Regions from separate parts of the Homo sapiens genome. Here all the other regions are linked to region 2. Evidence: fine-mapped expression QTL. A gene starts in region 2. Each other region holds a variant in brackets. All regions are shown on one strand. Distances are between the middles of the regions.

What was found. PIP is the estimated chance that this variant, and not a neighbour inherited with it, causes the effect.
Region 1: its variant is fine-mapped to the expression of TENT4B in whole blood (INTERVAL, PIP 0.93).
Region 3: its variant is fine-mapped to the expression of TENT4B in whole blood (INTERVAL, PIP 0.96).

What each region holds. Positions count from the first base shown.
Region 1 is chr16:50,229,357-50,233,591 of GRCh38, reverse strand. It overlaps TENT4B (terminal nucleotidyltransferase 4B), which reads right to left. Exons shown (of 12, transcript NM_001365324.3): 12 at 1-4,235. Among named protein-coding and RNA genes, the nearest start is that of ADCY7, 35 kb to the left of the region's middle. The variant G/TAAAG (reference allele first, on the strand shown) is at 2,550.
Region 2 is chr16:50,151,662-50,155,896 of GRCh38, reverse strand. TENT4B (terminal nucleotidyltransferase 4B) reads right to left here and starts at 2,591. Exons shown (of 12, transcript NM_001365324.3): 1 at 1,638-2,591. The coding sequence starts at 2,275. It also overlaps the pseudogene LOC124900375. RefSeq lists enhancers at 1-31, 891-940, 2,578-3,535 and silencers at 1,752-1,921, 2,042-2,091, 2,272-2,371, 2,602-2,761, 2,872-3,041 and 1 more.
Region 3 is chr16:50,175,999-50,180,233 of GRCh38, reverse strand. All of the region lies in intron 1 of TENT4B (terminal nucleotidyltransferase 4B), which reads right to left. Among named protein-coding and RNA genes, the nearest start is that of TENT4B, 25 kb to the right of the region's middle. The variant G/AG (reference allele first, on the strand shown) is at 2,092.

The DNA of each region.
Region 1 (4,235 bases), 78 kb before region 2:
GCCTTTATAAGCAATTTTTCTGGTTAATAATTTTGTCAACATTCAACGTCTATATATATTTAGCTCATTATCTTTGACCAAAAAAAAAAGAAAAGTCGCTAAGGGTGTGAAGTCAAGATGGCTTAGAACAAGATGACTGAGAAAAAGGCTTCCAGTTAGGTCAAGTTTTCAAATCATGTAAATAACTTCTACAGTAAAATCTGGCTTCTTAGCTATGTTAAATATCGAGAAGCATATTAAAATTTGATCTTTAACACTTATTCTACCCACAAATGTTTTGACAAGATGGCAGGTAGCTAGAGTCTTGAGGGTCAGAAACCAAGGCAAGATGAACTCTTTTAAGGAATTTCATATATAAATCTTTGTTCCCACTTTAATGCTGGAATGTTAACATCATTCTCTAAATATTTTACTAGATGAACTATGACCCTGATGAAAATTACTATCAACAGTAACTACTAAATATAACTTTTATATTCAATTAGGTTTGTTAGACGCATTTATAGAATATTTTGCTCATAAAATACTTTGAGAATGTGCCTTTCCAATAACTGAAAGTTTAATGAACTAGGAGAACAAGAATAGATGGGTAAGAATAAATTCTTCTGTTCATTAATTTTAACATTTCAATATTTATCACAGCAAAATTGGGAATGTATTTTTGATAGTTTACCATTTAGTTTTGACTGTGAAGCAACCAACTGCCTAGAAACATTCTTGGTTAGTGACAGAAACACTGAGAAATCAACATATTAGAATTCAAGGAACTGATCAAACTATAGATCAATATTAAAGTAAAACTGAGATGTAGTCATGACCAATAAAAGTATCAGCAACATCTACCACTAATACCTAATAATGGTGATTTCTAACAGATCAACCTTAATAACTACACCTCCTAGTCACTGGAGAGGGCTTTGCAATGAACATGTCACAGCAAGAGAATCCTGCACGTCACGGTGGTCATTACTCTTTTCTGACCCTCTAGTGTTTCCAGAAACCCCAAACACTAGTCCACAGGTTCAGGCAAACACAAGTCACACTTACCATTTCATGGGGGAGGGAAGGAGCAGAAAACACATGGAGAGATATAAGGTTCCAGCAGAAAAAGACAATTAAAAATGCTCACCCTATAGCCCATGTTTTGCCCTGTGCAGATCTAGGAATATCTGGAGCCAAATCAAATAACCTAAATATTAATGAGGCTCAAAATGCAAGTAAAGGTAAAGTACACTCAAAACAGGATAAAAATAAAACAGAATCAACTGTTGAAGACTGGAGGGCAATTACTTGTAAAAAACATAGGTCCTACAGATCCAAGCTAGATTTGAAAACTGAGTGCGACATCTCCAAACCAAACAAAGACATTCAAAACCAGGCACCTTCACAGTCACCTTAAAGCTGGAGGGAAAAAATGGATATACTTTTATCATCAAAACATAACCAGTAAGATTTTGTGCTGACACCTCACCAACCCATCAGCTCCTCTAAAAAACAGTCTTTAAATATTAATATTTCTAATGGCCAGGTACACATACATGACTGCCTGAGAAATGTCACCAGAGTGAGGGAGAATTTGTAAAATCCCATTCAACAAGTATTAGCAAAGGAAGGTTATGATTCATGGATATGAATGGACTCTAATATATAAATGACACATTTCTGATATATTCACAAAATATAGGAAGTATTAAAACTCAAAAAAGAAATAAGATAGGAGTCAAATAGATGAAATGTATAAAACAAATGAGCAGGCAAACTAAAAGTTCTTGAAAGTATTTTACTTCAGATTGAAAAATGAACAGCTTCCACACTGTTCACTGCAAGATACACAGTATTCACGAATACAATGCTGGTCATTTGAGGAAATGTATACACACCTCAATTTCTCCTTCATGCTTTTTTCTTTTAGAAAGATACTGTTTACCAAAAAGAAACTTCAGCAGTACAGGAAAAACTATTTTCCCAATAAATTTACGAAAACCTAAGATTCCCAATGGAATCAGAATTATCTTCCCGCTACCACCACCTTAATATAATCACATGCTTATTGGAACACTAATATTCGCACCCTAAGAGTACATTTACTTTCAACAATGAGGGTGATTCTTTAAAAACAAACAAAAAACAACAAAAAAAACTTCAGTGTGGTAAATGTAACATAGATCTCTGCAAGTATTAAGTGTCTGAAATAGGCAGCTAATACTGGATTTAATATTATTTTATAAATAATTGTTCCCTTAGCAGTAAACATAAGTCTACACATTCACAATTGTCCTAGAAAATAAATACTGTGATTATGCACAATGTTATGACAAACTAGTTTCAAAAACAAAAGCTCAACATCTCAATAAAAATTCTGATCAGAATAAAATGTGACTCTAAAATTTAAAACATTGTCAAAATAACATCACATTTGAAATCTTCCACAGTTTACACGAGTACTATGAGTTTCCAGTTTTGGAACACATTTTTCCATTGTGAATTAAAATATGAACATATTGAAAATTGTTAATTTCAGTGATGACATCAGTTTTGGTCTTACTTTA[G/TAAAG]CATTATTTTCTTTATAAAAAGTTACACTAAGTGTCCATTAATGGTCTGATTGGTCTTCAGTATTTCATAAATGTATATAAAAGAAACTCCTAAAAGCCAATAGTACTTTATATGTATATATATATAAAAGAATCTCGTCTCAGAAATGGCTGCATTTAACAGAGCCATACACATTGATGCTAAACATAAGAGCTTTCACCCTGAAAGAAAGCATTTTCAGAAATGTCACTTACATTCTATTATATTAAATATTCCCAACTGAGTTTCAAACTCAACAGGTAATGATAACAGAATTATACATCTCATTGCACTCAAAGCTGACTACAACCAAAATTTACAGTATGATTGAAACAAGCCAATGTTTAAAAAAGTTTTAATTAACGATAACAATTCCATGAAAGAAGAGGATAAAGAATGGGATGACAAGAAGTATTTGGTCTTAATAAGGCAATACAAAATAGATCCATTATCAAAGACCATTTAATTTGTAAAGATCAACAATACCAAAAGCATAGAGTGGAATATAAGAAAATAGTTTTTTATAAGTATGATTTAATTAAAGCTGTTTACAGTTATTCTCCCACAGTAGTTAAGCATGAATTTTAAAAAGAATAAGAGATGAGAAACAGGCACACGCAGCACACAGGGTTAGAGAAGCCAGCATGCAAAGTCTGTGGAACTCGAAGTTTCACTGCAACAGGAATGAGACCAGACATGGGTGACCTTTTTTTTTTTTTTTTTCCTATTAGGAAGAAATGGGGGGAAAAAAAAAAGACTGCAAAGGAAGCAAACACAAAGTCATGTAATTGCCCATTGCCCAAGACGACAGCACTATAGAAAACAGTTGCAAGTTAATTCTCGGAGATGACCAGAGATTTTTCAGTGTTTACACAAAAGTACATAGTACATTTTTTTTTTTTTACAAAATAAAATAAACATCATTTGCCACCATAAACCTTTTCTTTAGAGAGGAAAAATTTTTGCAGCAGGACACAAGGGTTCTATTAAGTCATTTCAATGCTGAGAAAAACAAATTGAGTAATAGAACTAATCACTTCCCTATATATGGATGTTAAGATGACAATTTAGATTATTTTTCAAACTAATCCTGAGAAAAAATCTGTTTACAATTTAAACAGTAATGTTATGTAAAAAGTATTATTAACAAATCCACTATTACAAATATCAATCTCCTATATGGTCTTCTATATATACACACAATAAAATGGTAAATATATGCAAAAATATTTAAAAAAAAAACATGCACAGATCACTTTCCCCTTTGGAATCTGGACTTCCTATCAGATACCTTTGTTTTCCTTCCCCACCTCATCCTCTGATACTGTTTTTTGTTTCTATCACCCTACCAACACTGAATACTATTCCCTATAACTCTGCATAAAGCCAATGAGAAATATATTTATTTTACATTCAAGCTTTAAATCTTAAAATGACCCTGTTGTAGCATATGACTTATCAAATAAGCAGCCTTTTTTTTCCCTCTTTTTTGCTTGCTTTTTTTTTTGTTTTGTTTTGTTTTTTTTGCAGTTGTCAGTCTTCATGATCCATTCTGTGGCGAGCTGGGAAAAAACGCAGTTGCTAAGTCAACGTCTGAACAGTGTGAGGCTCCTGAATATCTCCCAGGAGTCCCTGCGCAACTGTCCTGAGCATGAGATCATTGCACA
Region 2 (4,235 bases):
TAAAATGCAATTAAGGAACTTCAAGGTTTTCGTTGACAGTGATTACCTAACTGGAGCTTACTCCTGTGAAATGAAACTACCAGAAACCCTCAACATCAATTTGCTTGTCACTAAACCACAGGTTTACGCGTAGACTTGGAAATGCTAACAGGATGGAACCACAAGCCTTTAATAAAACGTGATGACCATGGAGAGCACCCTTGAAGCTTAGCAACAGAGGACTCAACCCTAAAAGGGTTCCCTTTCTGGAATGTGAGGGCAGGTTTGACATGTACCACAGCACCAGTCCTAGAACGCTTGACTGCATTTTCCACAAAAGGTAGGAGTTGTAATAGTAGCATAGAGCAGACACCAGCCCACTGGAAGCAGATGGAACCCACCAACTCATTTTATCCAGACCTTCAAAAAGGTACACAGAACTCTCTCTCTCAGCCAAAGCAGGGCAGATCTGAATGAATAAATCCAGGAAAAGGTTCACATGGGATTACTAATTGGTAATTTCATTTGCATGCTAAAGCCCTCAATGTAAAACACAACCTGAAAAATGAAAAGCAATTTGAAAGCCGGTTCTCCATACTCAAGCTACACACACACACACACACACACACACACACACACACACACCCACGAGACCCAAAAGCTTTGTTTTACAAAACAAATAAGATTCAGTGACCTATTCCAGCACAGGGACTCTTCTGAAGGGAGATCTAGTTGGAAACATTCCCTGCTTATGTACATAATTCACTAGGGGTCAGGTAAGATTCCATTTTCTAAGAGCTGAACTTTAAACAGAAAGTCACTAGTGGTGCAATATTCACTCATTAGCATAAATCTCTACCCCCTAGAATGAAAAGCATTGGCTGCCTCTGCCAGGATGACAACTTTACAGTGAGAAGCTGGAGCCGCGGACCATGAACTCCTGGAAAGTTCTATCAGGGCCTCAGAAGGGCTCACCACCTTCACCAGCCTAAACTTAGTGGTCACCCATCCCACGCCACCCTCTGCATAGACAGGGCATCTGTGACATGGGAATTTTTTAAAAATAAAAAGATGGGCCAAAGGGTCAAGAGCAGGCAATGCCTTACAGGGCTGACATAATTGCTGTCTGGGATTGGGGGATGGGGAGGAGCATTCTGGATGTTTCTATTCTTGGCAAGGAAAGCACCTCCGGGTCCTGCACCATCAAAAAACACTCACACACCAATGTTCTCAGGGAATGAATGATAGGCCCGTGCTAAGCGGTCTCATCTTGAGTTGTGATGATGGGGAAAAAGGTGTGGAGGGCTGGAGGCGGGGTGGTGGTCAAGGGTAGATGTGTTTAACTAAGGGGGATGGGAGGAGAGTGAATGGATAAAGGGGGGGGCCTGGGGAAGGTGTGGACGGTTAAGAGGGAGGGGAGGAAGGTGTGGACGACTAAGGGAGGACAGGAGACGGAGGGTGTGGACGGCTAAGGAGGCTTGGGGAAAGGTGTGAACGACTGGGGGGTTGGGGATGGCCAGCAGCACCCCCGTGCAACAGCAGCGAAGGCAGGCCGTGGGGGTGGCCGCTCCTAGACCCTCACAACCCCCCTCTGTGGGCGTGTGCCCGGCTGCGCATTCGCACCGGCCAGGCCATCGGGCCGCAGAGCCAGCACTCACCCCACGACTCCCTGGTTGTAGTTCCTCCGTTTCCACGGGGTCCCGCTGTACACGACCCCGCCGCCGTCTGCTCGGCCGCCCCCCGCGGCCCGCCCTCCGCTGGGCTGCAGCAGGCTGTAGTTGAGTCCATACGTGCTGGCCTTGTTGTCGCGCTTCCTCTTGTTGCTGCTGCCCGAGGCCGAATCGGCTGGATCGGCGGCGGGGACGGCGGCCGAAGGGTGCGGGGACGAGGACGCCGAGGGAGGCGAGGACGCCGAGGAGCCCGCCCGGCGGGCCCAGGCCCCGGGCTGGTGGTGGTTGTTGTTGTTGTTGGTCGTCTCTAGGGGCAGGAAGTCCCGCTGCTCCGCGGGCAGCGCGTGGCTGCCCAGCAGGCGCTCCCCGGAGCGATACATGCCGGCCGGGGCCGGGGCCGGGGCCGAGGCCGCGCCGCCGGGGCTGCCGGTGCTGCTGCCGCTCCCGCCGGTGGCCGTGCTGCTGCTGCTGCTGCTGCCGCCGCCGCCGCTCGCGCCGCCGCTGCTGTGACAGTGGTGGTTGAAGTAGAGGTTCCTCAGCCCCTGGGTCGTCTCCCAGATCTGCATCCACAGACTGTTGGACGGTCCGAGCTGCTCTGGCTGAAACCAGGCGATCCTCGGATCCATCAAACGGCGGCGGCCGCTGCCCCCGCCCCTCCCGGCCGCCCGCAGGGCCGCCGCCGCCGCCGCCTCAGGCGCACGCCCGGCCTCGGCTGCTGCTGCTGCTGCCGCTGCTGCCGCTGCTGCTGCTGCTGCTGCTCGGGGCCCGCCGCGGGCGGCGCGGTCGCGCAGGGAGCCCGGCCGGCGCCGGCGGCGTCGCTCCCGCCCTCGGGGGCTCCGCGGGCCCTCCCCCCCTCCCTCCGCCCCTCCGCCCCTCCGCCGAGCCCCTGTCACTGGGGTCCCCGTGCAAATGGCGGCGGCGGCGGCGGCGGCTCCACAGAAGAGCGAGCGGCGGCGGCGGCAGCGGCGGCAGCGAGACGCGCCTGCTCCGTAGCGTCCTCGCTCCTCCGGCCCCGGGGCGGGGCCTCTGCCGGCTCCGCCCCTCTCGCTCCGCCCCCCCCCCCCACCGCCCCGCCCTCACGCGCTCGCCCCGCCCCCGCTGCGCCGCGCAGCAGCCCGGGAGGCCTCGCCGTGCGTCACAGAGGCCGCGGCGCGACGGGGCCGCAACCGCCTGGCCCAACCGTACTTGCGCCATCTGTGGAGTGCTCCCACGTACCTGGGCGTCCGGGAGCTTCTGAGGCGCGCGCGGCTTCTCCGCCTCGGCTTCCCCGGTGCTGAGCGTGGACGAGGCCGCATGGAGGTTGCCGCCCGCCCCGCAGGGAGCGCGTTGTGGGAGGTGCCACTCCGCCCCTCGCTCCTCGCCCCTCCCATCCCTGTGGCCGCCGGATCCCGGGCCCTCGCAACCCTTCCTGACGTCTTGGCTTCTGCCTGCTTTCTAAAACACTTTCTTTTTAAAAAAAAAAAAAAAAAAAAAAACAGCCTATAACACTTTTTCTGGTGGCGTGGGGACACGCCCCCTGCCCGAGCGTGTGCCCCGGGGTCCTGACGCGGGCTGCGCGAGACCCTGCACGGCTACGTGTGCCCCGCCCTGCTGCGCCCTGGCCGGGGTGGGGGACCCCTCACCCCGGCCTGAGGCCACAGAAACCTGTACCCCATGCATAGCCCTGGGGGAGACCACTAAGACTGAGAGTGTGAGCCAAGGGCGGAAAGCCGCAGCCGCACACTCAACCCACTTTACAGGGACACGCAAACACGTGTAGATGCACAGAGAAGCAGACACACTCCTGCGCGGCGTAGCAAAGACGCTCTCCTGCCCTAAGGTGCACCAACAGCCTTAGAAAGCTCTTCTGAGTTCAGCATTAAATTTTAAGAAAACCCAAAACCTTTTAATCCTAAAATGAAGATTTAGCATCAGCAAAGATTGTCCACTAGGTCGTTATTTGCATGTCTTTCAAATCTCAGTGGTTAAAAAGCCAAGGAAAGGGGAATGTTAAGTATTTTAAATCAAGAGACTAAAAGAAAGTAAGTGAACAGCTTCTATGTGGGCCCTTTAAGGTTGGTCCAACGTCCAGAACAAGTCCCTGATGCCTGATATTGGCCTTCCATTTTGGGAGCTCAATATCCTGGAAAGTTTTTATGACAAATAGTGGAAAACTATCAAAGAACTAAGTGTCGCTCTACCTTTTTCTTTCTTTCGAGACTAACTCTTGCTCTGTCATCTGGAGTTCAGTGACTCATTCACAGCTCACTGCAGGCTCGGCCTCTTGGGTTCAAGCGATCCTCTTGCCCCAGCCTCCGAGTAGCTAGGACTATAGGCACGCGTCAACATGGCATAGAGACGAAGTTGCTCTGCGCTGCCCAGGCTGGTCTGGAACTCCTGGACTTAAGCGATCCTCCTACCTCAGACTCCAAAACTGCTGGGATTACAAGGGGGTGAGCCACCACGCCTGACCTTACTTTTTTTTTTTTTTTTGGTAAGAGAATAAATAGCACGACCAGAAATACGGAAAACACACAAAGACCCTTCAGCTGCAAACAACAGCTTCCTTGGTAGTTTATGCAGCCTGTTTCTTGTATGGGCTGCTCT
Region 3 (4,235 bases), 24 kb before region 2:
TACTCAGGAAGCTAAGGCAGAAGAATCACTTGAAACTGGGAGGCAGAGGTTGCAGTAAGCTGAGATCGCACCATTGCACTCCAGCCTGGGCAAAAGAGCGAGACGCCATCTCAAAAAAAAAAGAAAAAGAAAAAAAGAAAGTGAAAACTATCACTCCCCTACAAATGTATTTTATCAGAGTACCTGAGAAGTGGGTTCTAGTCACTAATTTTTTTTTTAACTTCCTCAGATTGAGAACCGCACTTAGAAGGAGCTGCTTTAGGAGTTATCACTATCAAGCCCACTGAGCCCATCATCATTATCTGCATGGTCCACAGGAAACCCAACGGTATGGCAGAAGACAAGGTGAAGCACCAAGCCCTGGTTTTATTTGATTTAACAGACTTGGGCTGACAGGACCAGATTCTAGAGGCACACTAGGACACATTACAGACTAGGGCTAAGAAACCCTGGATTCAGGTAAAGATAAAGTCACTATACTAACAGCAGAACTTGGTAATGTCACTTAACTTCTCTGAGGCTCAAGTTATTAATTTTTTAAAAAAGGATTGGAGTAAATCACCTCTGAAGATCCTTTGATCTCAAACACCTTGATGATTTCTAACCATGTTGTAACAAATCGGTCAAATGAATAAGCAGAGTGGTCCTTACAGTAATGCATGAATATCTTCTGCAAATATCAGATTAACCTCATATATACAATTTTGGGCTTATTTACATAAAAATCCTACTCCTCACCACACCATAAGAAATCTTAACTGAACATTAGTGTGTTCTATCAAGTCAATTACAAATGAAAATTAAACTGGTCACATAAGCCCCAAAGTAAATATAAACATTTGGGATAAAGTAAAAAAAAAAAATTTTCTTTTGAGACGGAGTTGCGCTTTGTTGCCCAGGCTGGAGTGCAATGGCAAGATCTCGGCTCACTGCAACCTCCACCACCCGGGTTCAAGCGATTCTCCTGCCTCAGCCTCCCAAGTAGCTGGGATTACAGGCATGCGCCACCACACCTGGCTAATTTTGTATTTTTAGTAGAGACGGGGTTTCTCCATGTTGGTCAGGCTGGTCTCAAACTCCTGACCTCAGGTGATCCACCCGCCTCGGTCTCCCAAAGTGCTGGGATTACAGGTGTGAGCCACCGCACCCGGCTGGAATAAAGTAAATTTTTAAAGTAACTCTTTAACCTTTTCACTGTCAACACCATCCTGATGTTTTTTATAATTTTTTTCCATCTGTAAAAATTGTTGTAAAACATATGTAACATAAAATGTACCATTTTAATCATTTTTAGGTGTACAGTTCAGTGGTATTAAGTACATTCACACTGTTGTGCAATCCTCACCACCATCCACCTCCATAACTTTTTAATCTTTTCCAAATGAAACTCTGTACCCATTAAACATGAATTCCTCATTCCCTCCTCCCCACAGGCCCTGGCAAGCATTATTCTAATTACTGAATTACTGTTTCTATGACTCTTATATTCCAGATACCTCATATAAGTGCAATCATGCAATATTTGTCCTTTTGTGTCTGGCTTTTCTCATTTAGCATAATGATCTGAACGTTCATCCATGTTACAGCAGTGTCAGCATTTTCTTATTTTTAAAGGCTGAATAATAGTAGCCCATTGTATTCATACACCACATATTATCTATTCATCCATTGATGGACACTTGGGTTGCATCATTCTGATTTTTTTTTTAACCATCAGTAGTTATTTTGAAGTCACATACAAAAAAGATGAATGAACTTTATGTCATCAACTTTTTTTTTCTTTTCAAGAGAGAACAAAATTTCACTCTGTTGCCCAGGCTGGAGTACAGTGGTGCGATCATGGCTCATGTAGCCTCAACCTCCAGGGCTCAAGCAATCCTCCCACTTCAGCCATATACAGGTATATGCCACCATACCCAACTAATATTTTAAAAATTTGTTGTGCAAGTGAAGTCTCTATATGTTGCCCAGGCTGGTCTCAAACTCCTGACCTCAAGTGATCCTCCCACTTACGCCTCCCAAAGTGCTGGAGTACAGGCATAAGCCACTGCACCTGGCCAGCTTTTCTTTAAAAAAAAAAAAAAAAAAAAA[G/AG]TAGACCACCTTGAGCCACAAAGAGCACCTTAACAAATTGAAAAGAATAGAAAGCATACAAGGTATGCTCTCAGACCACATGTAATTAAACTAGAAATCAACAGCAGAAAGATAGCCAGAAAAATCCCAAAATACATACTTGGAGATTAAACAATACACTTCTAAATAACAGATGGGTCAAAGAAGTCTCAAGAGATATTTCTAACTAAATGAAAATGAAAATATGACATCAAAATTTGTAAGATATAGAGAAAGCAGTGCTTACAGGAAATTGTACAGTGTTAACTGTAAACATTAGAAAAAAGATCTAAAAATCAATAATCTCAGTTTTCACTTAAAAACTTAGTTTTCTAGAAAAACTAAAAAAAATTAAATCCAAAGTGAGCAGAAGAAAACCAATTAGAGCAGAAATCAATTAAATTGAAAACAAAATTAATAGAGAAAAATCAGTGAAACCAAAAACTGGTTCTTTGAAAAGATCAACAAAATTGATAAGCTTCTAGCCAGATTAACAAAGAAAAAAAAGGGCAAAGACACAAATTACTAATAGAAAAAATGAAAAAGGGCCATCACTTCTGAACCTATGGACACCAAAAGCAAAACAAAGAAATATTATGAAGGACTCTAATCCCACAAATTTGATAACCTAGATGAAATGGAACAATTTCTTGAAAGACACAATGTATTAAAACTTACCCAAGAAGAAAAGACAATCTCAATGCACCTTTATCTATTAAGGAAATTGAATCAATAATCAATAACCTTCTAAAGCAAAAGGCACCAGGCCCAGATGGGTTCACTGGTGAATTCTACCAAACTGTTAAATTAGATATTATCTCGGGCCAGGCACAGTGACTCACGCCTGTAATCCCAGCACATTGGGAGGACAAGACAGGTGGATCACCTGAGATCAGAAGTTCAAGACCAGCCTGGCCCACATAGTGAAACCCCATCTCTACTAAAAATACAAAAATTAGCCAGGCATGGTGGTGCATGCCTGTAATTCTAGCTACTCAGGAGACTGAGGCAGGAGAATCACTTGAACCTGGGAGGCAGAGGTTGCAGTGAACCAAGATTGCGCCACTACACTCCAGCCTAGGCGACAGAGCAAGATTCCATCTCAAAAAAAAAAAAATAGATATTACCTCAATTCTCTTTCAGAAACAGAAGCAGAGGAAATATTTCCTAACCTATTCTATGAGGCCAGCATTACCCTAAACCAGACAGAAAAGAAACCAAAGAAAACTACAGAACAATACCTCTCATGAACACAGATACACAAATGCTAAATAAAATACTAGCAAACTGAATCTAACAATATACGTAAAGAATTATAGGCCAGGCACAGTGGCTCACTCCTGTAATCCCAACACTTTGGGAGGCCAAGGCGGGTGGATCACTTGAGGTCAGGAGTTTGAGACCAGCCTGGCCAATATGGTGAAACCCCATCTCTACTAAAAATACAAAAATTATCTGGGCGTGGTGGTGCATGCCTGTAGTCCCAGCTGCTCAGGAGGCTGAGGCAGGAGAATTACTTGAACCCGGGAGGCAGAGGTTGCAGTGAGATGAGATTGCACCGCTGCACTCCAGCCTGGGCGACAGAGCAAGACTCCATCTCAAAAAAAAAAAAAAAAAAAAAAAAAAAAAAGAATTATTGGTATATATGGTTGACACTGGAACAACACAGGTTGGATCTACATATGTCCACTTATATGTGGATTTTTTTTTCAATAAAACTTGGATTACAAATAAATTGTAGGCTGGGCGTAGTGGTTCATGCCTGTAATCGCAGCACTTTGGGAGACGGAGGCGGGCAGATCATATGAGCTCAGGAGTTTGAGACCAGGCTGAGAAAAAGAAAGATTCAATCTCTAAAAAAATTTAAAAACTTAGCTGGGTGTGGTCATGGGCACCCATAATCCCAGCTGCTTGGGAGGCTGAGGTGGGAGGACAGCTTGAGTCCAGGAGGCAGAGGTTGCAGTGAGCTGTGATCATGCCACTGCACTCCAGCCTGGGCAACAGAGTAAGACTGTCTCAAAAAAAAAAAAAAGAATTATATTGGCTGGGCTGAGTGCCTCATGTCTGTAATCCCAACACTTTGGGAGGCCAAGGTAGGAGGGGCATTTCAGCCCAGGAGTTCAAGA